Linked DNA regions of Homo sapiens. The protein of the gene in region 2 purifies or fractionates together with the protein of the main gene of each other region. This does not show direct contact. Each region holds a gene or a part of one and is shown on either strand. Other genes may lie near its edges. The genes, in order: EIF2AK3 and EIF2A.

Evidence for each region.
Region 1: the proteins of EIF2A (region 2) and EIF2AK3 purify together in Homo sapiens (affinity purification with western blotting; 2 studies listed by BioGRID and IntAct, with this or other methods). This does not show direct contact.

What each region holds. Positions count from the first base shown.
Region 1 is NC_000002.12:88,589,465-88,596,464, forward strand, and holds part of EIF2AK3 (eukaryotic translation initiation factor 2-alpha kinase 3 isoform 1 precursor), read right to left. Parts: intron 6,200-7,000; coding exon 6,005-6,199; intron 4,595-6,004; exon of another isoform or gene 4,449-4,594; intron 3,942-4,448; coding exon 3,808-3,941; intron 1,589-3,807; coding exon 1,354-1,588; intron 1,142-1,353; coding exon 979-1,141; intron 1-978. UniProt on the Homo sapiens protein: Metabolic-stress sensing protein kinase that phosphorylates the alpha subunit of eukaryotic translation initiation factor 2 (EIF2S1/eIF-2-alpha) in response to various stress, such as unfolded protein response (UPR).
Region 2 is NC_000003.12:150,573,171-150,590,904, reverse strand, and holds the end of EIF2A (eukaryotic translation initiation factor 2A), read right to left. Parts: intron 15,257-17,734; coding exon 15,143-15,256; intron 9,288-15,142; coding exon 9,159-9,287; intron 7,706-9,158; coding exon 7,640-7,705; intron 7,060-7,639; coding exon 6,994-7,059; 3' UTR 4,889-6,993; downstream 1-4,888. UniProt on the Homo sapiens protein: Functions in the early steps of protein synthesis of a small number of specific mRNAs. Acts by directing the binding of methionyl-tRNAi to 40S ribosomal subunits.

The DNA.
Region 1 (7,000 bases), on a different chromosome or scaffold from region 2:
AAGCACACCAGAGTTTTATTTTTTAGATCAGTTGTACAGATGCACTGATAAAAAAGAAAGAAATCTAATCTTAAAGAGGGGAGGGTCACAAACTAATATGGATGCAAATACAAATACAGAAAATTATAGACTTTGAGGATATATACCTAACTATATATTTTATATGTAATTACATATAAATAATTATATATGTAATACATATATGTAATTACTTATAAATAATTATATATATATAAACAGACAGAGTGTTGTCCTGTCACCCAGGCAGGAGTGCAGTGACATGATTATAGTTTGGGGTAGGCTCTAACTCCTGGGGTCAAGCGATCCTCCCATCTCAGCCTCTGGAGTAGCTAGGATTACAGGTGCGTGCCACCATTCTTGGCTAATGAGTAATTTGAAATCATGTTATATAATGAGAATATTTCTAAGCCTTTCTAATATAGACCTCAGAGAAAAAGAATATGCGACAGTAATTAAAAATTTCAGAATTGGGCTGGGCGTGGTGGCTCATGCCTGTAATCCCAGCACTTTGGGAGGCCGAGGTGGGTGGATCACCTGAGGTCAGGTGCACTATATTCTGGCCAATGTGGTGAAATCCCATCTCTACTAAAAATACAAAAATTAGCTGGGCATGGTGGCAGGTGCCAGTAATCCCAGCTACTTAGGAGGCTGAGGCAGGAGAATCGCTTGAACCCAGGAGGCGGAGGTTGCAGTGAGCAGAGATCATGCCATCACACTCTAGCCTGGGCGACAAGAGTGAAACTCCATCTCCAACAACAACAAAAAAATTTTCAGAATTGGACAAATGGAAAAGTAGCAGGAATGGAAATCGAAGTATAAATCTCAAGGGCAACGTACATCAGAGATGATATTAGGATTTAAAACTACTACAGGCACTCCTGAAGTAGGAAGGAACAATGTAAGAAGAAAATCTAGATGTCAATGTGTACTATCGTTAGATAAGATACATTTACTCACCCAAGTAAACACTGTTTTCTGTGGCTCCTCTGGCAGCTTCTACAATGTCTTCTTCATCTTCTAAAACATCATCATTAGATGTATAACTTGTATCATCAAAAAGACTGATGGGAATGACTTTCCCATCCTTAAGTAACCAGGCAGATGCAATTGGAGTACAAAACTAAACAAAAATGGAAAAAAGGTCTTAAATAATTCAAGCAGTAGTTATATAGTTCCAACCCATAAAATACCATTTAAAATCACAAATTTATAAAAGCACAGAGAACAAGCTGAGAGCCCCAAGTAGTAGTAATTTCGTTCCACCCAATCAATAAGTTTGGTCAGACTGGGAGAGGAAGAACCGTATTTTAAATCCTCAGTGGTGTTAGGTACCTGGTACTCCCATTCCAGATGTCCTCCCTTCTTACTGAATGCCATAACTTTCCAGTCAGCAACCGAAACCTTTATCACTATGTCCATTATGGCAGCTTCCTGTTCTTCCACATCTGAAATAATTTTAGACTCTTCTGTGTTCTCATTGGGCTTAAAGGTGCTTTCAATAAATCCGGCTCTCGTTTCCATGTCTGGAATATACCGAAGTTCAAAGTGGCCAACACTGAAATTCCACCTTAAATTTACAAAGGTGTGTTTTAGAAATTTACATTTAAAGAAAGGGACAAAATAATATAGAACTCTTCTAGATTGAAGAAGCAAATACTAAAATTATGTGATGAGAAAACTAACAACATAACCTTCTGGAAAAGAGTGCTCTACTGATTTATGCCACAAGAGGGCCCACAAGAACTTTGTCCTGACCCTTCAGACACAATGGTTTTGAGGGTTGTGGACTGACTTGATGTGTCCCTTACAACAGCTAAGGGACAGATTTTCTCTCAAAAACTTACAAATGTTTGTACTTCTACATCAGAGTGATTTTCCCCAAACACATCAATGTCACCTTAAAATGAGGTAGCACACAGTCTGCCTTACCTCTTAATTAAAGGCAGGATACATTTCATTAAGTGCAGCAAAATTAATATGCCCTAACAAACCAGTGTAAAAGTCAAGATGAATGCACCAGTCTTAAATTCATACTAAAACATGGCCTCAAAAAGGCAATGTGATCCAGGATACCTCAGCCCCAATCTTGGATCTCCACTGAACAAGATGTGGCAAGTCATTTACCCTTTCCTAAGTAAGTTTCAGCAGTCTTATCCTAAAGTGGCAGTAATAATGTTTCCTCTATAATTAGTAAATAGAAAAATCACTCAACTACTGAGAGTATTGTGTCTTTTCACTTAGATATAAAATGGCATAGTTAAGAATTCTGACATTTATGGAAATAATTATATTTTAAAGAATCATGGATCTTAGAAACCCAGATCCTTCCTATTCTGGTAACTCAAAAATCTGTTAAGTTGGACATCTGCTGCTATGGTGGCTGAGCTCCCAGTAAGCACTCAAACACTTAAAAAAACAAAATCCAGTCAGGATAAAGAAGGTCAAGTTGTCTGTAAATGCAAAGCCCTATTCATAGTCCAAAGTAGAAAGAATAAATGCATTCTTAACTGAGTTTGAGAAAACAGTTTTCAGGAAAGGAAACTGAATTACACTGCATCGGATCAGACAAAACCCGAAAGTCTGGTTCATTTTCAAAAGATAAAGATGGAATCTAAAGTTATTTTTACTACAAAGGCAATTTAAAACTTAAATATTAGGTTTAAAAAAAATCAAGCATTTGATGTAGAATCAGCGTATCTAATCTAGGTATCACATTTTTTAATCACATATTTAAATATAAAAATTACATAAGGGGTTCATTATTTAAAGAAGGAAACAGAAAGGTATTAGGCTAAATAAATGTTTTAATACTTCAAGAAAATTGAATAAGATGATTATTATTTTAAAATTGAGATAATCAAACTATGAAACTACCTACTAGACATAATTAGAGAGTCAAATAAGTTCAAGCTCAAAGAAACACATCAATTTTGTCTTAACATCTTTCTGTATTCAAAGAACTTTGAATGATGAGATTGCTATAAAAAATATCATTAGGCCAGGCACCGTGGCTCATGCCTGTAATCCTAGCACTTTGGGAGTCTGAGGTGGGTGGATCACCTGAGGTTGGGAGTTTGAGACTAGCCTAACCAACGTGGAGAAACCCCATCTCTACTAAAAATACAAAATTAGCCGGGCATGGTGGCGCATGCCTGTCATCCCAGCTACTCAGGAGGCTGAGGCAGGAGAATTGCTTGAACCCGGGAGGCAGCTGTTGTGGTGAGCTAAGATCATGCCATTGCACTCCAGCCTGGGCAACAAGAGTGAAACTCGGTCTCAAAAAAAAAAAAAAAAAATCATTAACCTGAGACTAAACTAATAGTTATCATATGAGAACCCCTGTGGTTATCATATCCCGAAGCATATGGTGAGAAGTTCAGTTCAGAATTTGTTAATAACCATGAAACCATTTTTATTTTAGGACCCACATTGGATCACCTGACGTCGGGAGTTGGACACCAGCCTGGCCAACATGGTGAAACCCCGTCTCTACTAAAAATACAAAAATTAGTTGGGTGTGGTGGCACGTGCCTGTAATCCCCGGTACTCGGGAGGCAGAGGCAGGAGATTCGCTTGAACCCAGGAGGTGGAGGTTGCAGTGAGCCAATATCACGCCACTGTACTCAAGCCTGGGCGACAGAGCAAGACTCCGTATCAAAAAAATATATATATATATGCTTTTAAGGCAACAAAATAGTCAAAATCTCCACAAACAGAAATCTGATAAATTTTGGTATTAGGTGTATTTCTAAATAATACCAACAGCAACATTATCTGAATACACACTTCTCATTGCCACTGCGAGGTCCGACAGCTCTAACAGTTTTTTGGGTACGCTGTAGAAGCAGGATGTCTTCCTCTTGTTCCATTTCGTCACTATCCCATTGGCGACAACCCAGAGCTGAACAGATATACCTCACCTGAAAAGACAAAATTAGATACAAAATTAGTAAAAGGAGACAACTCATAATAGATCAGAGATATTAAAGGAATCTGTAATTTTTAAAAAGTGAAAGGAAACTAAGGAAATGTGTATGAAGTACTCAAGTCATAAGAAGCATCAGTTAGATTACCAACTCCTAAAATGAGTTATTTAGAACAATGACAGTACCAATGAATATTTATTTCAGGGAATGATTTTAAGGATTTACATAATTTTAGCCTTACTTTGGAGATTTCCATAGAATATACAAGAAGAAATGGATAGCTACTTGTGATAGCTTTTCTACAATATCATTAATAAAATTTCAGGTGAGTTAAAAAAAAAATCAACCTTAGAGTTTCTGTATAACAAAAGTGTTTGGTTTTTAAAAATTTGAAACTTTTCTGAGAGCTTTTTGTATTCAAAAGTAACTGCCTCAAATTTTCACTAAAGAAAAAAGGAAGAGTTAATATGATCCAAACTAAAATCCTCACGAAAAGCATACCTTCTACAATACCAGAATTATGTAGCAGCACATCAAATCGGAAAACCAGGTGATCGGGTTCAATCCTGTTGTTTACAGATGAGACTACCGAAGTAAACAGAGATTGAAGTGCTTTGCTCAAAAAACGGCCAGATAGGATGGCATGGCCTCCTCAACACAATGCAGATGCAGGTGGGTGGAGAAGGCAGAAAAGCATCTGCAAGAGCAAGAAAGTGCTATGGGCCTAACACTTAGATAAGGAATTGTTAAAGTTGAAAAATGCAAGAGTAAAAAGACCACGTTTCTATTCTTCCTTATTTTAGTCCAAGTCTGTATATAAACCGTTTACACGTCACAATGGTGTGATCTCAGCTCACTGCAACCTCCACCTCCCAGGTTCAAGTGATTCTCGTACCTCAGCCTCCTGACTAGCTGGGACTACAGGCGTGCGTGCGCCACCATCCCCAGCTAATTTTTTTATTTTTAGCAGAGATGGGGTTTCACCATGTTGGCCAGGCTGGTCTCGAACTCCTGGCCTCAAGTGATCCACCCACCTTGGCCTCCCAAAGTGGTAGGATTACAAGTGTGAGCCACCTTGCCTGGTTGAAAGGATGCTTTTAATTAGCTACTCTTGATAATGGATTTATAAGACCCAATCTTAGAAGCAGATTATATTATGATTATATCCTAAGAGCTAATGTTGGAGAAAGTCTAGATTATTAACAGCATGACTTTGTTGTCAGATAGATCTAAGTTAAATGTGACCCTGGAAGTTTCTGAACCTTTTAAAGTCTCAGTTTCTTCATCTGTAAAATGAGTATAAACTTTCCTCTTGGATCACCTTATTATAGGATCAAACCCTATAAATGAGTAGTATCAATTATTCTTATCATTAGGATTACTATTAATCTTTATAAGGTTCTTCATCTGTCAAAATGTAAAAAAAAAAAAAAAAAAACGAAAGTTACACTTAGGAAGACTGTGAAGATTGCAAAATAATGTATAAAAAAAAGAACCTGAGGCTGGGCATGGTGGCTCCTGCTTATAATCCCAGCACTTTGGGAGGCTGAAGTGGGCAGATCCCTTAAGGCCAGAAGCTGGAGACCAGCCTGGCAATACAGTAAAACCCTGTCTCTACTAAGAATACAAAAATTAGCCAAGCATGGTGGCATGTGCCTGTAATCCTAGCTACTCAGGAGGCTGAGGCACAAGAATCGCTTGAACCCACTTGAACCTGAGGGGGTGTGGAATGGGGTGGGGGTGGGGATTGCCATGAGCTGAGATCAGCCTGGGCAACAGAGTGAGACTCTGTCTCAAAAAAAAAAAAAAAAAAAAAAACACCTGAGACACAGTAGACCATATTTATGAATTCTCTTCCTCCTGCTATTCCTGGCTCTGCCATTTATTCTGTTATTAGTTTCCCCTTCCTACCTCACAGTTCTCTTATTAAAACAAATGACAACCTCAGGGGAAAATTACAATAAAACTCAACTAATAATAAGTGTAGTTTAATAAATTACTTTTTCTACCCTAATTTACTCTGATTTCCCCAAAGTAAATTCAGCATTTTCACTTACCTTTCCACTATATGCACTGAGTCCATATGTAGTCAGAGATTTTCCTCCAACCAAAACAACATCATCTCCAAATTTATAAGAAGATTCAAGAAGTGATTCAACTGTGAAAGGAACTGTTTCCATGCTTTCACGGTCTTGGTCCCACTGGAAGAGGGCTCCATCCAGGGAAGGAATGATCATCTTATTCCCAAATACCTAAAACAGAAGCTAACTTTTTAAAAGGGCCATAACATTAATTATTATTTTTTTCTTATTTCTCCCAGAAAAATAGAAGCATCATACCTTTAAAAGAATAATAGTAATTAAGAGCTGGAGTCTTGATCCTGATGTACTCCAGCCTCCTTCTGAGTAGCACATGAAGCAGTGCAGTCCATCAACCAAAAGTAATTTAAAAGAACTGCCAATCACTCCCAGGCCCTACACATAGTACTCTAGTAAGATTTTTCTCAAACTCAGTTTACCATGGGCCAAAAGGGTCCCATAATGGTAGGTGAGTTACCAAAAGAGAGTTTTATGATCAAGTGAGTTCAAGAAGAGGTTACTATAGGAGCTCTTATAGCAATTAGTATGTTAATGTGTAACATGATTATGTGTAATATGTGTAATATGAATATTTAATGTGTAAATAGATAATATATGCAGTATTTTCTAGGGCTATTTTTATCAAGGCCAATTACTGTCATAGACTCAGCTCCAAGGAACACAGGTTTAGAGATACTGATTCAAGTAGTGTCCCATCCCTTCTTTCATTTGCTTTCTCAAATCTGCAATGAGATAGAAGCCTAGTAAGTAAGCTTACTGGTTTTGTGTTCTCGGTTGCCCTCCCTTCTTTTAACAATGCTTATTAAGGGCTTACCTATGGCCTGGCACATTCTGATGGTTGGGATAGATTAGCGAGCAAAGCAAACAAATCACTGCCTTTGTGAAGGTTAAACTCTGGTGTCACGAGACAAACAACTTAATAAATAAGTAAATTATATGGTATGTTAGGTGATA
Region 2 (17,734 bases):
TGTTCTAAAATTTTGAATTCCTCATTAATTTCCCCATACTCCAGATCCTTAGAACCCTCTAGTGTCCGTATGAGGAATTGGTTTAGGTGAACCAAGTAAAATGCTTTTAATTTTTACATTCATGTTTTTAATATATATATATATATATATATATATATATACACACACACATATACATACACATATATATACACATATATATACATATACATATATATACACACATATACGTGTGTATATATATATGCTGGATGTAGTGACTCATGCCTGTACTCCTAGCACTTCAGGAGGCTGAGATCGGTGGATTGCTTGAGCCCAGGAGTTTGACACCAGCTTGGGCAACATGGCGAAATCCTGTCTCTACAAAAAATACAAAAATTAGCTGGGCATGGTGGTGCATGCCTGTAGTCCCAGCTACTGGGGAGGCTGAGGTGGGGGATCACTTGAGCAGTGAGCCGTGATCATGTCACTGCACTCCAGCCTAGGCAACAAGGCAAGACCCAGTCTCAAAATGTATACATATATTATCAAATACAAAAAACCTTTAGAAGTGTGCTTGTCTGACTTCCAATTTAAGACAACAGACTAAGCACATGCATCTGCCTCCCCCTTCTTAGGATCTGAGTGACATGACAGGAAAGTGGTACAAGCAATAATTTTGTGGCAACACTGAAAAGAAAGAAGGACCAGTGGTCCAGAAACTGCAATACCTCCAGGAAAGAAGGACCAGTGGTTCAGAAACTGTATTAAAAACTCTAGAAAACAGAAAGTAGATGGATTCATACTAATTGGTTTACCTATAATTTCCACAATATACCCGCGGTGAAATGAAGTTTGGAGATGTGAAGTACTCGAGAGATTCCAAGAACAAAACAGAGCATTACAGAGGGAGGGAGTGGCCTATGAAGCAGCAGCTCAAGAACAGCCGTGTGTCACTTAACAGGGATAGGTTCTGAGAAATGTGTCACTAGGCGATTTCCTCACTGTGTGAACATACAGTGTACTTACATAAACTTAGATGGTATAGCCTATTGCTCCTAAGCAATACAATATGTTACTGTATTGATACTGTAAGCAGTGGTAAATATTTGTCTATCTAAACATATGTAAACGTAGAAAAGGTACAGTAAAAATATGGCATAAAAGATAAAAAATGGTACACCCATATAGGGTACTTAACTTGAATGGAGTTTGTGGGACTGGAAGTTGCTCTGGGCAAGTCAGTGAGTGAGTGGTCAGTGAACATGAAGGCCAGGGGCATTAGTGTACACTACTATGGACTTTATAAACACTGTACACTTAGGCTATGCTAAAAATATTTTTCTTGTTTTAATAATCAATTAACCTTAGCTTACTGTAACTTTTTAAATTTATAAACTTTTAATTTTATATAACTTTTTGACTCACAATATCACTTAGCTTAAAACATACGTTGGCCAGAACAAGCCTATAATCCCAACATTTTGGGGGGCTGAGGTGGGATGATCCCTTGAGCCCAGGAGTTCAAGACCAGCCTGAGCAACATAGTGAGACCTCGTCTCTACAAAAAGTAAAAAAATTAGCTGAGTGCGGTGGTGCATGCCTGTAGTCCCAGGTACTTGGGAGCCTGAGTTGGGAGGATCCCTTGAGCTTGGGAGGCAGAGGTTGCAGTGAGCCAAGATTGTGCCACTGCCCTCCAGTCTGGGTGACAGAATGAGACCCTGTTTCAAAACAAAAACCAAAAAACACATTCACACACATTATACAGCTGTACGAAAATATTTTTTCTTTATATCCTTGCTCTAAAAGCTTTCCTCTAATTTTTTTTTTTTTAACTTTTAAAGACACAAACCCATACATTAGCCCCAGCCATGTAGGGGCTATTGATCAGGATCATCAATATCACTGTCTTCACTTCCACATCTTGTCTCACTGGAAGGTGTTCAGGGGCAATAACACACATGGAGCTGTCATATCCTACAGTAACAGTGCCTTCTGGAACTCCTCCTGAAGGGCATGCCTGAGGCTGTTTTACAGTTAACTTTCTAAAGTAGGGGTACACTCTAAAATAACAAGTATAGTATAGTAAATACATAAACCAGGAACAGTCATTTATAATTATCCAGTATTATGTACTGTACATAATTGTAAGTGCTAGACTTTTATAGGACTGGCAGCACAGGTTTGTTTACAAACAGCATCACTACAAACAAGTGAGTAATATGTTGTGCTAGGGCATTACAAGGCTATCATGCCACTGGGAGATAGGAATTTTTCGGCTCCATTATAAGCTTATGGGACCACTATCATATTTGCAGTTTGTCAGTGACAAAAACGTCTTTATGTGGCACATAACTGTAGCTGATTAGATCACTGGCTATCACACTTCAGGGCAAAGACTTTCTTCCCCCAGGTGCAGAGAACAAATGGTTGAAGCATTTCCTCTGGTTGCAGTCCTGCAAACTGCTTTCCAAAGACAGTACTGAGCCTCAGATGATGTAGACCTCCTCAAAGTCCTGAAGAGTAGAAAAATGCTCCTCCCCTACAGAATAATTTTTTTTGGAAATTGTGAGGCCCCTGTCATCCTACAACGACACTAACAGGACACTTGTCAGTCACAAGACCAACTGTGAGCAGGCAATCAGCCCTGCATTCCGGGCAAGGCTTTGGTGTAAGCAGCTCTTCACAACTGCCGCCGTGTCCACGCCTGCCACTTAACCTCATCGACTCTACAGGGCTAAGCTGTCCCTGAAGAGGTGTAATGTTATGGCTGGGCCTATGACTTACCACTGATCTGACGCAGGGGTTACAGACAGTCAGCAGGTCTATGACTATTAATGGATTGTATCTTTCCATAGAGAGCTGAAAAGCCAAGGATAAAATGCTCACCTTATAATTTACTTTTGGAAAACTCAACATCTTACCTTTTCACCTTTTTGGATTGCAACATAAACATCACAGAATTTCTGATATTAAATTTATTTTGGAATGTATGTGTATTATTTTTTACTTGGCAAGGGGTATAAATTCAGAAAATGTTCAATTTAGTTTTTTAAAAACTGGTTTAACAGTTTGTCTGAAGCAGATTAGTGGCCCATGATCTTCATTAATCTTTTGAGCAATAAATGTTTAAATTGTTCAATCTGTGTCAAAACCAATCTGGCCCATTGCTTTATTTCTTTTTTTAAACAAAGTTTAAGGCCAGGAGCAGTGGCTCATGCCTGTAATCCCAAAGCTTGGGAGGCCGAGGCAGGCGGATCACTTGAGGCCAGAAGTTGGAGACCAGCCTGGCCAACATGGTGAAATCCCGTCTCTACTACTAAAAATACAAAAATTAGCCAGGCGTGGTGGTGCATGCCCGTAATCTCAGCTACTCGGAGGCTGAGGCGCGAGAATTGCTTGAGCCCAGGAGGCAGAGGTTGCAGTGAGCTGAGATCGAGCCACTGCACTCCAGCCTGGGTAACAGAGCAAGACTCTGTCCCAAATTTAGATGTTAAAATGCCAATTGCGGAGTCACATCTGATTCACTTAACTTGATTATGCTTCCACTAAATAAAAACAACAGTCTCAGAGTAATAACAGTACCAAATGTGAAAATAAATTGAGTAAAAAAACCCCAAACATAGTGAAGGAGAAAATCAGCAAGTAAAATAAAGATGATGATGATAATAGTAACAACAAAAAGTATTTACATTTTGTTGTTGTTTTGGAGGCAGGGTCTTTCTCTGTCACCCAGGCTGGAGTGTAGTGGCATGATCATGGCTCTCTGCAGCCTCAATCTTCTGGGCTCAAGTGATCCTCCAGCCTCAGTCTTATAAAGTGCTGGGATTACAGGCATGAGCCTAAATTAGTGCCTGGCCTAAATTTTCTAATGTGACATGACTCAAGAATTCCACTTCTAGGAGTTTATATAGTGGAGAATACAAGAAGCAACATAATTATGTGGTTATTTCCATGTTATTTTGTATTCTTCTACAGAATACAAAGGAATTAGCAATATTTTTCTGTAAAATGCCAGAGAGTATATGTTTTAGGCATTGCAAAAACATGACCTGTTGGAAATACTCAACTCTGCAGTTGCAGCATGAAAGCAGCCATGGAAAATAAGTTAACGAGTGAGCATGGATGTGTTCAAAGAAAACTTTACTTATGGACAATAGATTTCACAGTTTTATACCATTTTCACATGTCATCAAATAATCTTTTGATTTTCCAACCATTTAAAAATGTAGGCTGGCTGCAGTGGCTCATGACTGTAATCCCAGCATCTTGGGAGGACGAGGTGGGCAGATTGTTTGAGCTGAGGAGTTTGAGACCAGTCTGGGCAACGTGGCAAAACGCCACTGTTTAAATGAGGGGAAGTCCAAATGTTAGATTCTGGACTTGGCTCTTCCTCTACTTAGCTGCCAACCATGATAAACACGTTAAACCTTAAAAAAAAAAAGCAAACCATTTTTCTATTTAGAGCATGTTAAATCTTACTTTTTCCCATAAAGTCTTCCTTGATTCATTAGTTGTCCTTTACTTTTTTTTTTTTTTTTTTTTTTTCTTGAGACGGAGTCTCGCTCTGTTGCCCAGGCTGGAGTGCAGTGGCACGATCTCGGCTCACTGCAAGCTCCGCCTCCCGGGTTCAGGCCATTCTCCTGCCTCAGCCTCCCGAGTAGCTGGGACTACAGGCACCCGCCACCACGCCCGGCTAATTTTTTGTATTTTTAGTAGAGACGGGGTTTCACTGTGTTAGCCAGGATGGTCTCGATCTCCTGACCTTGTGATCCGCCCGCCTCTGCCTCCCAAAGTGCTGGGATTATAGGCGTGAGCCACCACACCCGGCCTGTCCTTTTAAACAAACTGAAATTTATACAATCTATATTGGTCTGCTCAGGCTGCCGTAACAAAATACCAGACTAGGTGGTTTAAACAAAGAAGTTTATTTTCTCACAGTTCTGGAGGTTAGAAGTCTGAGATGAGGATATCACCAGCATGGTTAGGTTCTGGTGAGGACTCTCTGGCTTACAGCTGGCTGCTTTCTCACCATGTCTTCACATGGCCCAAAGAGACAGAACAAGCTCTCTGGTGTCTTTTCTTGTAAGGACAATAATCCCATCACGAAGTCCCCAACCTCTTCACCTCATTCAAACACACTTACCTTCCAAAAGGCCCATCTCCCAATACCACCACGTTGGAGGTTAGGGCTTCAACATACGAGTTTTAAGGTGGCACAGTCAGTCTATTAACTTCCTGTCCATATATTAGTTATGTATTAGGCATTATGTATTACCTAATACATAGCTAATCTGTATTAGTCAGGGTTTTCCAGAGAAACAAACACATACACACATCCTGAGAGAGATAAGAGAGAGAGACTCATATAGAAGGAGCTCCAAAATATTTTTTTTTGTGTGTGTGTGAGACGGTTTCACTCTTGTTGCCCAGGCTTGGAGTGCAATGGCACGATGTCGGCTCACTGCAACCTCTGTCTGCCGGGTTCAAACAATTTTCCTACCTCAGCCTCCCAAGTAGCTGGGATTACAGGTATGTGCTACCACGCCTGGATACTTTTGTATTTTTAGTAGAGATGGGGTTTCACCATGTTGATCAGGCTGGTCTTGAACTCCTGACCTCAGGTGATCCACCCACCTTGGCCTCCCAAGGTGCTGGGATTACAGGTGTGAGCCAGCATGCCTGGCCTCCAGAATATTTTAAGGGAGTACAGAACCACTATGGTGAGTATAAGCTGGGCATAGTGATGCAAGCCTGTAGTGTCAGATACTTGGAAGGAGGAGGTGAAGGATCACTTGAGTCCAGGAGTTCAAGGTGCACTCCAACCTGGGAGGCAGAGTGAGACCCTGTCAAACAAACACCACCACCAAAAAGCCCCAAACAGAACAGTTAGTATATGCCATCTTTTTTTTTTAAGTGTATGTGTATGTATATTTGAATACTCATATGGTATCTATCATTAGAAAGATACACAAAAAACTGGAAAATGTGGTAGTGGAACAGACTTAATTTTCATTGCATGCCTTTGTATTTTTTGAATTAGAAAAAAAAAAGTCCTGTGTGTATACTTTTTCTTTAAAAATTTTTAAAAAAGGATTTTGTTACTACATAGGATACTCTTACAAATTAAGAAGAAAGTCAAACATCCAAACAGAAAAATGGGCAAAGGAAAAGAAAAATCAATTCACTAAAGAAATACAACCAACTATCAAACGTGGAAAAGTACATAACCCATCTCTGATAAAAATACATGTATATAACAGTAACAAACAATCATTTCCTCTTTATCAAAGTGGCGAACATTTCAAAGCCTTATCACTTCTGATATTGCCAACAGTGTGGAAAACTTTAAATGGTGCAAGTATAAAGCTTGAGATAGGGCAATTTGGCAGTATCCATGAAAACTAAGCAGGGTGCTTAGTGTTACTAAATGATACATTACTTGAGGATACAGGAGTAGTATATATCATAGTGACCTAAAGCATAGGCTCTGGGATTAGATGGCCATTTCCTAGCTTTGAGACACTGACAAATTTCTTAAATTTATGGCCTTAGTTTTTTCATTTATAAAATAGAGATTAAAAGAATTACTTCATAGAGTCTTGTGAGAATTAAGTAGTTTTACACATCTTATAAATTAATAAAGGATATCTGAACTAAGGAACTTATAATAAAAACAGTGATTAAATTTAAAATGTCTTTGTTCATTTACATGGTATATATCACCCTCTACAAAAAAAAATGACACTTGTCTTTCAATCTGTCAAGCTTAGCTAAAAAATTCACGTATCTCTTTTCTATATCACATATTGACATGATATAGGATGCAAGATATAAATATCAATTTAATAGACATTATTAAATAATTTTACACTTAGTAGAATCTTGGATAAATGGTTAAAATTATAGATTGACATTAAGTGTGGGCACAGGAATATTCTGTGTATACCAATGGGTTTAACAGAAGATGTGTTTGCACTGATTTCTGGTCATCAACTTGCTTTCCGTGAATCTTTAAATACCCAATTCCAAATCTTCCAGCTCCTGGAGAAGGGCTGTTTCTTTCTGAATTTTCTCCAACTAGAAAAGTTTGAAACAATGAAGTTATTATGAAATAATTACTGGATATGTAACCAAAATAATACAGAAAAAATGGTATTTCTGACAATTTATTATGTTCACTAGTAAACACAGATTTTAAAATACAGGTTAGAAACAAATTCTAATTTGTTATCTGGTATGAATCGAGGGTGAAAAGAACAGACACTGTCTTACTGCATCCCTTTGGGCCCCAAAAATTTTCAATTCTATATTCGGGCTTAAACATGTTGACAGGAGGAGGGAAAAGGCAAACAGGGCAGTACAACTTGAGAGAATCTTATATTTGTCTAATATAACAAATTGCTATTATTTTCAGCAGTAATAACATAGTATGCCTCTTAGGAATATTGACTTTTTCATTCACATGATCAATACCATATCTCTTCTATTTAAGAGTAAAGCTATTTAAAAGTAAAAACATTAAAAAGAATATGGCATATGGTTTTCAAAATAAGTTTTTAAACTCCATGTGCTCTTTTACCTGACTAAATACTTGTTTATAATAAAAGGGGGAAGGCTGGTGGTCACCACAAGCCTAAATGAAAAATGCAGAAAGTACCTGATTTTTTTCTAGCTGTTTTCCAGTTGCTGCTTGTTCTTTCAGTTGTTCGATTGCTTTCAGTTTCTGCAAACATCAAATATGAGTCAAGAGCATGGAAGAAAAGTCACTTCAAATGCAAATTTCCTTATTAAGAATGTGAAACTCAAGTAAGGAGATTAATTATCTTAGATTTGTATCAACAATGGTCTGTTAAAATGCTAGGATAAATTGTTTTTTAAAGTTAAATGCAAAATTGTAAATGTTAAAAACATGAGATTTGGCAAAATATTATTCTCAGGCTTTTAATTAATGTTATCGTGTATGCATGTGTATATATAAATGTATCAGTAATGGCACATTTCAATGCCCCATTGGACCTGGGTGATGTTTCTGGCTTTGAGAGAAATCTCAATGAGAGCATTCTGAAAGATTGTTGGTCCAAAGTCCTGCCCGATAAAAAGTGAATGAAAGAGAAACCTCATAATGCAGCTGTGAAGGGCTCTAGAGACCTTTTTTTATCCCCAGGGCCACCCCAGCACACTGGCTGCAATATCACAAATCAATACACTTCTTTTTTGTCTCTGTCTCTTCATCTTCAAAACTAGGATAAATATCTGCCCCTAATTATCACAAGGTATCTAATGAAATACTGAGTATAAAAGTATTGAGTGACCAGGTGCAGTGGCTCACACCTGTAATCCCAGCACTTTGGGAGGCTGAGACAGGCAGATCATGAGGTCAGGAGATTGAAACCATCCTGGCTAACACGGTGAAACCCCGTCTCTACTAAAAATACAAAAAATTAGCCAGGTGTGGTGGCAGGCGCCTGTAGTCCCAGCTACTCGGGAGGCTGAGGCAGGAGAATGGCCTGAACCCGGGAGGCGGAGCTTGCAGTGAGCCGAGATCGCGCCACTGCATTCCAACCTGGTCGACAGAGCAAGACTCTGTCTCAAAAAAAAAAATTAAATTAAATTAAAAAGTGTTCAGTGGCCAGGCGAGGAGGCTCACAAATCCCAGCATTTTGGGAGGTCGAGGCGGGTGGATTACCTGAGGGCAGGAGTTTGAGACCAGCCTGGCCAACATGGTGAAACCCTGTCTCTACTAAAAATATAAAAATTAGCCAGGCGTGGTGGCGCACACCTGTAGTCCCAGCTACTCGGGAGGCTGAGGCAGGAGAATCGCTTGAACCTGGGAGGCGGAGGTTGCAGTGAGCCAAGGTTGTGGCACTGTACTCCGGCCTGGGCAACAGGGCAAGACTCCGTCTCAAAAAAAAAAAGTGTTCAGTATATTTCTATGCTGATGCACACTGAATTTTATTACTCCAAAAATCAAAGTACTAAGAGTCTTCAGACATTTATGAATAGAACTAAAATCAATACCATTCCTAAGTGAACAGTGCTTCATAGTGAGAAAACAACAATGAGAACTGCTGATACCAACTTCTTAGATACCTGTCTTTAGGCATCTAAGTACTCTCTTACTTATATAATTTTCATGTATACCTTTCAATATGCACATCTGTTTTTAAGTCTCTCACCTTCTTTAGGTTCTTGATTTTTTTGTCTATCTCAGGGTCCCCAGAAATTGACTGAGAGACAGTGTTTCGTGGTGTGCTCTGTGGGGCAGGAGTAGGTGCCAAATCTGGACTCTTGTCACTTCTTGCTTCCTGCAGGAAATATTTTTTTAAATTCAATTTTAAAAGCCAAAAACATTACAGTATTTAAATCAACATAGCTTTGGCATATGAAATACAGAAACTAAATATGTGATTTTATCTACATTTTATATAAAGAATCTGAATTAAAGGTCTCATGAAGTATGCTACATACTCCCATGTTAGAAATAAAATGACCTTATCAGAGTAAACCAGGAAGTTTCTGTACCAGCCAACAAGCATTCCAAACTTTTGCATATTCTGAGATGTGCCAGTAGATAGATGGTTTGAACATATGAGAGGGCTTTTCTATTTAAGGTGTTTAAAGTTTCACTCTTACAAGGCTCTCTCCAAAACTATAAAGAATATGTATGATCAAGTACCTGTAATGGATTATGCTACAAGAATAAGAATCCTACAGATATTAATTTATAATCAGATCAATTCAGCTCTGCAACAAAGTACCACAAAACTTTTTTCCCCTTAAAGGGATGCCATAATGCTTCCAATATGATCAGACCTCTGATAACTTTTCTTGTCCCTCCTCACTGATTCTGAATCACTTTTATTTCCGCTAAGGTGCTGTATACTCTTGCCCCTGGCCTTTGTGTACAGCAGTCTCCCTTAACCATGGTTTCAGTAACCAAGCGTCAACTGCAGCCCAAAAATATTACATGGAAAATCCCAGAAATAAACAATTCATAAGTTTTAAGCTGTGTGATGAAATCTCTCAGCATCCTGCCTAGAACGAGAATCATTCTTTTATCCAGTGTATCCACAGTGTATTCGCTCCCCACCTATTTTTCACTAGTAGCTGTGTTGGTTATCAGATCGACTGTCACAGTATCAACAGTAGTTGTGTTTAAGTAACCCTTATTTTACTTAATAATGGTCCCAAAGTGCAGAGTAGTGATGCTGGCAATTCGGATATGCCAAAGAGAAGCCGTAAAGTGCTCCCTTTAAGTGAAAAGGTGAAAGTTCTTAATAAGGAATAAAAAATATTGTATGCTGATTTGCTATGATTTACAGTAAGATTAAACCTATCCATGAACTTGGGAAGAAGAAAAAAGAGATTAGTGCTAGTTTTGCAGTTGCGCCTTGAACTGCAAGTTATAGCCGTGGTCATTCAACTTACCACACAAGCATTGTACCATCTCACATTGTCGCAAAAAGGGTGAATACAACACCATTAGATATTTTGAGAGACCATATTCACATATCTTTTATTACAGTATATTATTATAATTGCTCTATTTTCTTATGAGTTACTGTTAATCTCTTACTGTGTATCACAGTCTCTATAGGGTTCGGTACTATCTGTGGTTTCAGGCATAGCTCTGCCCCTCCAGGATAAAGGGAGACTACTATATATTGTTCCTTGTGCCTAGAACACCTTCCCCCACAAGTCACCTGGCTGAACCCTACTTATCCTTTAAGTCTTCTGGAAAATCTCCCCACCTTAAGACTGGATAGTCGCACCTTTCCCAGGCTCTCATAATGCCCAGTATTTTTCCCTACGGTAACACCATATTCTACCATTCCCCATTAGAACTGAGCCTCTAGCATAATACTTGCTTCGTTGCACAGGCTAAATAAATAAAAAATAAAGGAATGACTCTTCCTTTATAATTATGACAAGATATATATTTTGGTAAGAGGGGAAAAAATTATGTAAGTATTTATTGGCTCCAACGTAGGGTTTCTACTTCTTATAGAATTTCCAGTGGAATATATATATAATGCTCCAGGTCTCCATAACCTTTTACTCAGAGTTCTGGGTAGGATACTCTGAACTTTTAAAGCATCCTCAGATCCTCAGGGAACATAGAATAGGGTATCACTTCTAGATATTCAACTCTAAAAGTCTGCCTAAGAGTTTTTAGAAAATACAGAATTGAAGTCAATTTTTCTCTTTTTTTTTTTTTTTGGAGACAGAGTCTAGGCTGGAGTGCAGTGGCACGATTCCAGCTCATTGCAACCTCCACCTCCCGGGTTCAAGCGATTTTCCTGCCTCAGCCTCCCAAGTAGATGGGATTACAGTTACAGGCACCTGCTACCACACCCAGCTAATTTTGTATTTTTAGTAGAGATGGGGTTTCACCATGTTAGACAGGCTGATCTCGAACTCCAGACCTCAGGTGATCCACCCACCTCGGCCTCCCAAAGTGCTGGGATTACAGGTGTGAGCCACTGCATCCAGCCAATTTTTCTTTTTAAAGTCATGTTGGTTTCACTTTTTGGTACTATTTAATAAACAATTATTTACCTTCTACATGAAAACAAATTACTGGGCACTTTGAGAATTCGAAAGAAAATATTAAGTTTCTCCTCTTAAGGAGCCTGTAAGTTCTGGTAATAGGCAGTTTTATATTTTTCACAATATAAAATTAAAGTAGAAGAGTAAATAAAAGAAGAGGGGATATTCTGCCTATCAAAATTCACTTTTGATATCAGATTTTAAAAATATAAAATTTTAGTTGTTTGTAATGAGCTAAGAATATAGCTCTCTAGGAAGAAAGGTTAATCTTATCATGTGAAAAACCATTAAAATTAAGTGATATATAAAATTTATTTTTCCCCACAAACTAACCAAGAACAAGTTGAAATGTCTGCATTATTATACTTAAATTCTAGCCATTCTCTAGAAAGGACGTATATATGGTAAGATTAAATTCTTATGTTTCAACTCTTTTTTGGTAAAGTCAACAAACTTATAAAATTATCACCAGTTTACAAAAATACTAGTTAGATTACATATATCTGACTGCTCTATCTTTGACTATTTACTTCAGAGTCAGGACTAAGAAGGTCTGGATAAGGTGAGATTCTGTCAAGGGCCATTTAGCTTTGTTCCATCACACAGCCACAACTTTTACTAACTTCAGCCAGTCGTCCCCAAAATACATACTGAATAGTTTATCTTGCAAGTTGAAAACCTTTGCTATTACTGGAAAAACAACTCAAAAAGCAATTCCACAATGAGGGATTACTGGTATCACCTTTGGTATCATCTTTAGTAAAAAACGTGTGTAGGTGCTTGATGACTGTATTGGCTCTTTTAAAAAAAACTGACAGGTATAAACATATAACTGAGAGTTGTAAATTTATAACTGATCAGCCCAGCTGATCACACTATTACCATGAGCTATAAAGAGTTACACATTTATAACAGAGTTACAAATAACTATTATTTATAATAATAATTTCATTATATTAATTAAATGTGAAATTATCACATAATTTATATTATAAAATGTATAAACTAATAGAATTTGTATATTATTTATATAATTAATACAATTATAATTTAGTATATTAATTAATGGTTATAATTATTAATAATTATAATCATATGTAATTATGTAAGTAATTATTTATATAATAAGTATAAAGGAATCTTAGTCCAGTATCACCAATGGTCATATTAAAAATATCTTTTGATAAAGTGGAAGAAACTTTGCTTATAAAAATAGAATTCTAAGTTGAGTGCGTTTCAGAGAGGCCCTAAAACTCAAAGGGCATCTTAGTTATCAAGTTGTTAAGGATACTACTAATGAGTTGTAATATCCAGGGCCAGTAGAGGTCCCTACTTGTACTGATGAAGGGACAAGACTTGCTTTTATACAAATCTAATATCAAATGCATGGAATAGATCATTTTTACTTGGAATAACCTAAAGCTGACCAATTAAGATACTTCTGGGGATGAAACATATTAACTACAAATGAACAGAATGGTTTTTCTAAAAGTCCAGATTTTAGCAGAATATGGTTGCATAATACAATTCTATACCTTAAAATAGTAACTGCCTCCCAAAACACATAACCAGCCTAGACCTGTCAAAATTCAAGAATTATCAGCAAGACTATACTGATATAGCAACCAGCTGTTAAAAATCTGCCCTTTCTAGGATGGGCACAGTGGCTCACGCCTGTAATCCAAGCACTTTGGGAGGCTGAGGTGGAAAGACTGCTTGAGCTCAGGAGTTTGCGACTAGCCTGGGCAACATGGCAAAACTCGGTCTCAAAAAAAAAAACCAAGCCAAAACCAAACCAAAAAAACCTACTCCCATTTCCTGCTTGAAAAACATAGCGATAACCTATCTTTACAAAAATAAAAAAATTAGTTGGGAATGGTGGTGTACATGTACAGTCCTAGTTACTTGGGAAGCTGAGGCAGGATTAGTTGAGCTCAGGGTCTGGGGTTGCAGTGAGCCGTGATCATGCCTCTGCACTCCAGCCTAGATAACAGAGTGAGACAGAGTGTCTCAAAAGAAACAAAAACAAAACATCCAAAAACCCTACCCCACTGCTACAGTCTGACATATTGGTGTTTCCCTCAAATTCATAGTTTGGGACCTAATACCCAATGTAATAGTATTAAAAGGTGGGGCATTTGGAAAATGATTAAGTCATGAGGATTCCACACTCAAGAATGAGATTAGTAGCTTTATAAAAGAGACCAAAGAGAGCTCCACTGCCCCTTCCACCATGGGAGGACACACAGAAAGAAGGTGCCATCTATGATGAACGGGTTCTCACCAGATACCAAATCTGCCAGCGCCCCAGCTTCTAGAACTGTGAGCAATAAATTTGTTTATGAATTACCTAGTATAAGGTAGCAGCCTGAATGGATTGAGACATGTACTCTACCTGAATTGCAAAAATGTGATCACCATAACTTCACTAACCAGACATCCCCAGCCCAGCCAATCACATTATCACCATGAGCTATACAATATCACAATTTGTCAATTATTTACACTGGTGTGGCTTTTCAACTACGTAATCAAGTAAGAAACTATTTTGGAAATATCCCATTATTTGGGTACTTCTGGTATTTCGATTCCCAGTTAAATAATTTCATATAGTACTATAATACTGAGTGCCCAAATGGCTTTCTAGTCATGTAATTTCCAGCTTCTCTTAGTAAATACATGCTTCAAGGAAAGCAAACTACACCACTTCACACAAGTGCCACCAAAAGGGTCTACAGCAAGTAACATGCTTACATAATACCATTAGTGTCTCAGGTTATGATGTCAAGTCCAGTTTCTTTTGTCACCCATCATATAGACAGGATTACTTAGAAATTCATAGGCAAAGACAAAAGAAAGATATTCTGCCTATTTAAGTCTAACTCCAACTACATTTTATAACGTAAGAGCCAAGGTTTTTTGTGCTTTTTTTCTTTTTTTTTCGAGTCATGGTCTTGCTCTGTTACTCAGGCTGAAGTGGTACAATCACAGCTCACTGCAGCCTCAACCTCCCAAGCTCAAGTGATCCTACCATCTCAGCTTCCCAAGCAGCTGGGACTACGGGGTACACGCCATTGTGCCCAGCAAAAAATTTTTCATAGAGATGGGGGTCTCACTATGTTGCCCAGGCTGGTCTCGAACTGGGCTCAAGCAATTCTCCCACGTTGGCCTCCCAAAGTGCTGGGTTACAGGCATGAGCCACCACACCTGGTCACAGTCAAGTATTTAGGACCACAATTCTTTAAACTTTAAGGCTTAAAGCTAACTTAACTGCCTTTTTTTTTGGAGATGGAGTCTCTCTCTGTCGCACAGGCTGGAAGGCTAGAGTGCAGTGATGCGATCATGGCTCACTGCAACCTCCACCTCCCAGGTTCAAGTAATTCTCCTGCCTCAGCCTCCTGAGTAGCTGAGATTATAAGCCATGGCCAACTAATTTTTGAATTTTTAGTAGAGACAGGGTTTCACCACGTTGGCCAGTCTGGTCTTGAACTTCTAACCTCAAGTGATCCACTCGCCTCAGCCTCCCAAAGTGCTGGGATTACGGGCGTGAGCCACTGCGCCCGGCCATAACTGACTATTTGTTTTGTTATGAGATTAGTGCCCCAAATACCTGCTTTGCAGCTTTCTTAGCTTCATGCTTCCTTTGATTTTTAAGAGCTGTTTTTGATAATGGCTTATCGTTTCCTGATTGTGGTTTCATATTCTGAGGTGGTTCCTCTTCATGCTATGGAAAATGTAAAATAATTTTGAAATGGAGTCCATGTTGTAAACACCTACAACAACAAATTATACACTTCTGCTAATATAGGATAAACTTATTTTATCAAATTTAAGATCATTAGCAAAGATTATTTTGAAACTCATTGGTAGTGGCACACTCCAACTGTCAGGATGGATTTAATTAGGGTCTTCCTATTAGTTCCTATATCTTTCAATCATATCAGAGCTGGCAAAATTCACTTTAGTTTTGTTCAAACAGAATTTTTCTTAGCACTACTACAGACACATGATTCTTATGAAAACTAGATACCAACAACAGCTTCTTCTGAGGCCTTTTTGGTTCTAACTATTGTCAACAGAAACCCAGTTGCCTCGCTTGTTTTCTTCACACAAAGAATTACTTGCTAGATCTTTACTTGTAAAATCAGAAATTAGAAGATTAAAAATAAAAGCAAATGAAAAAACAAGAATAGATTATAAGAAAATAAATGAAATAGAAAGGAGTAATTAACTAGATAATTACAAATCTGGGATTGACATATGAAGAGACCAAAAAAAAATTACATGGCTTGTCAGATTACACAATGAAGACAATCATTTCCAACATCAGATATTCATGTAACCATGTAACAACTATATTCCACAATAGAAAAGATGGTGAATTATAGATTCAATGTATCTCCAGAACAGTTTTAGACAACATACAGTATAAGTGATGGCACTACAACTCTCTATCAGATTCAGGTACTTACTGATTTCTATCTATATTGCTATTATTTTAATGTTAACTGTCTCTTAGACTGTACCATAACTCAGCACATCAAAAGTACCAGCTCTCCATGAAGTTTCTTGAGTACTAGGTCTCAGATCCGCATTTTACTTATAAGTTCTATATGGAAATGAGCAGAGCTCAAACACTTAAGATGCAGAGTAATAAATAAGAAACCATAAAGTGACCTTATCTTAGCAAATGCATTAACTATTTCAGGTCATCAAAGTTCTGGGTATGTTCATATTCTACTTGAAACAAACTGAATATTATGAGAACCCACATTTGTAGAACAGCAGACAAATTTGGAGTGCAAGGCTCTTTCATTTCATTTTTATCCATGTTGCATAAAATGCTACTTAAGTTATACAATATTTGCTGAACATTTGTTTTATACATAATATGAAAATTCTTTCAATAGTGGGCTCTTCTGTAGTAGTTTACTTTGGCCGAAAAGTTTCTGCTCAGAACTTTGATGAAAAATGATACAAGAAGAAAAGATAAGTTACAAGTCTCTTCCACGCTTATGAGCATCATGTAGCCACTGAGAGCCTTTCACTTGAGACGAAAAAAATCCACACAACTACTATAAATCATGAGTTTTTTCTGGTTTTGGTACTATGTGCTCATTACGCATAATTTCATTCTCATTAATAAACTTTGTTTATTCAGTTATATCAATTATTATGGGACTGTTTTTGATGAACACATTTTAATTTCTCAGCTCACTGCAACCTCCTCCTTCTGGGCTCAAGTGAATTTCCCACCTCAACACTCCCGAGTTGCTGGGATCACAGGCAGACACCACCATGCCCAACTATTTGTTTTGCATTTTTAGTAGTGATGGGGTCTCACCATGTTGCCCTGGCTGGTCTCAAACTCCTGAGCTCAGGCGATCCACCCGCCTCGGTCTCCCAAAGTGCTGAGATTACAGATCGAAACCCCCACACCGGACCAACGAACGCATTTTAAAAGGTGAAGGTTTTTTTGGAAAGCTAATAAATATTCTTTAAGTATAATTTATATATAAATTTTTACTTATAAAAAACTTTTTTCTGTGAGGGACGAACCCCAACACCTTTTTTCCCCTACTGCTGTGTAACTCTCCTCCTTTGTGAAGTTATCTACTACACTGTCTTTGTTTCTAGTAATTTCTTGACAGTATTTTCTTTGTAATTTAGCTCATTTCTGGAATTAGATACACGTAAACATTTCTAATTACTGGGCATATAGCTACTTCAACTAAAATGATTTGACAGGACCACACAATCATCACGCCACATAAAAAAGCAACAATTTAGTAGAAATCTTAAATGTTAACAAAAAAATCCTGGCCGGGTACAGTGGCTCATGCCTGTAATTCCAGCACTTTGGGAGGCCAAGGCGGGTGGATCACCTAAGGTCGGGAGTTCCAGACCAGCCTGGCCAACAGGGCAAAACCCCATCTCTACTAAAAATAAAAAAATTAGCTGGACGTGGTGGCAGGCACTGTAATCCCAGCTACTCAAAAGGCTGAGGCAGGAGAATTGCTTGAACCCGGGAGGTGGAGGTTGCAGTGAGCAGAGATCGCGCCACTGCACTCCAGCCTCGATGACAGAGTGAGACTCTGTCTCAAAAAAATCCTGATTTTAAGTTCTTACCTAATTTCATCACCATTTTCAAAGTATTATTTTCTGTATCAATTTCTCCCCCTCACCAAAATAAACCTACTAC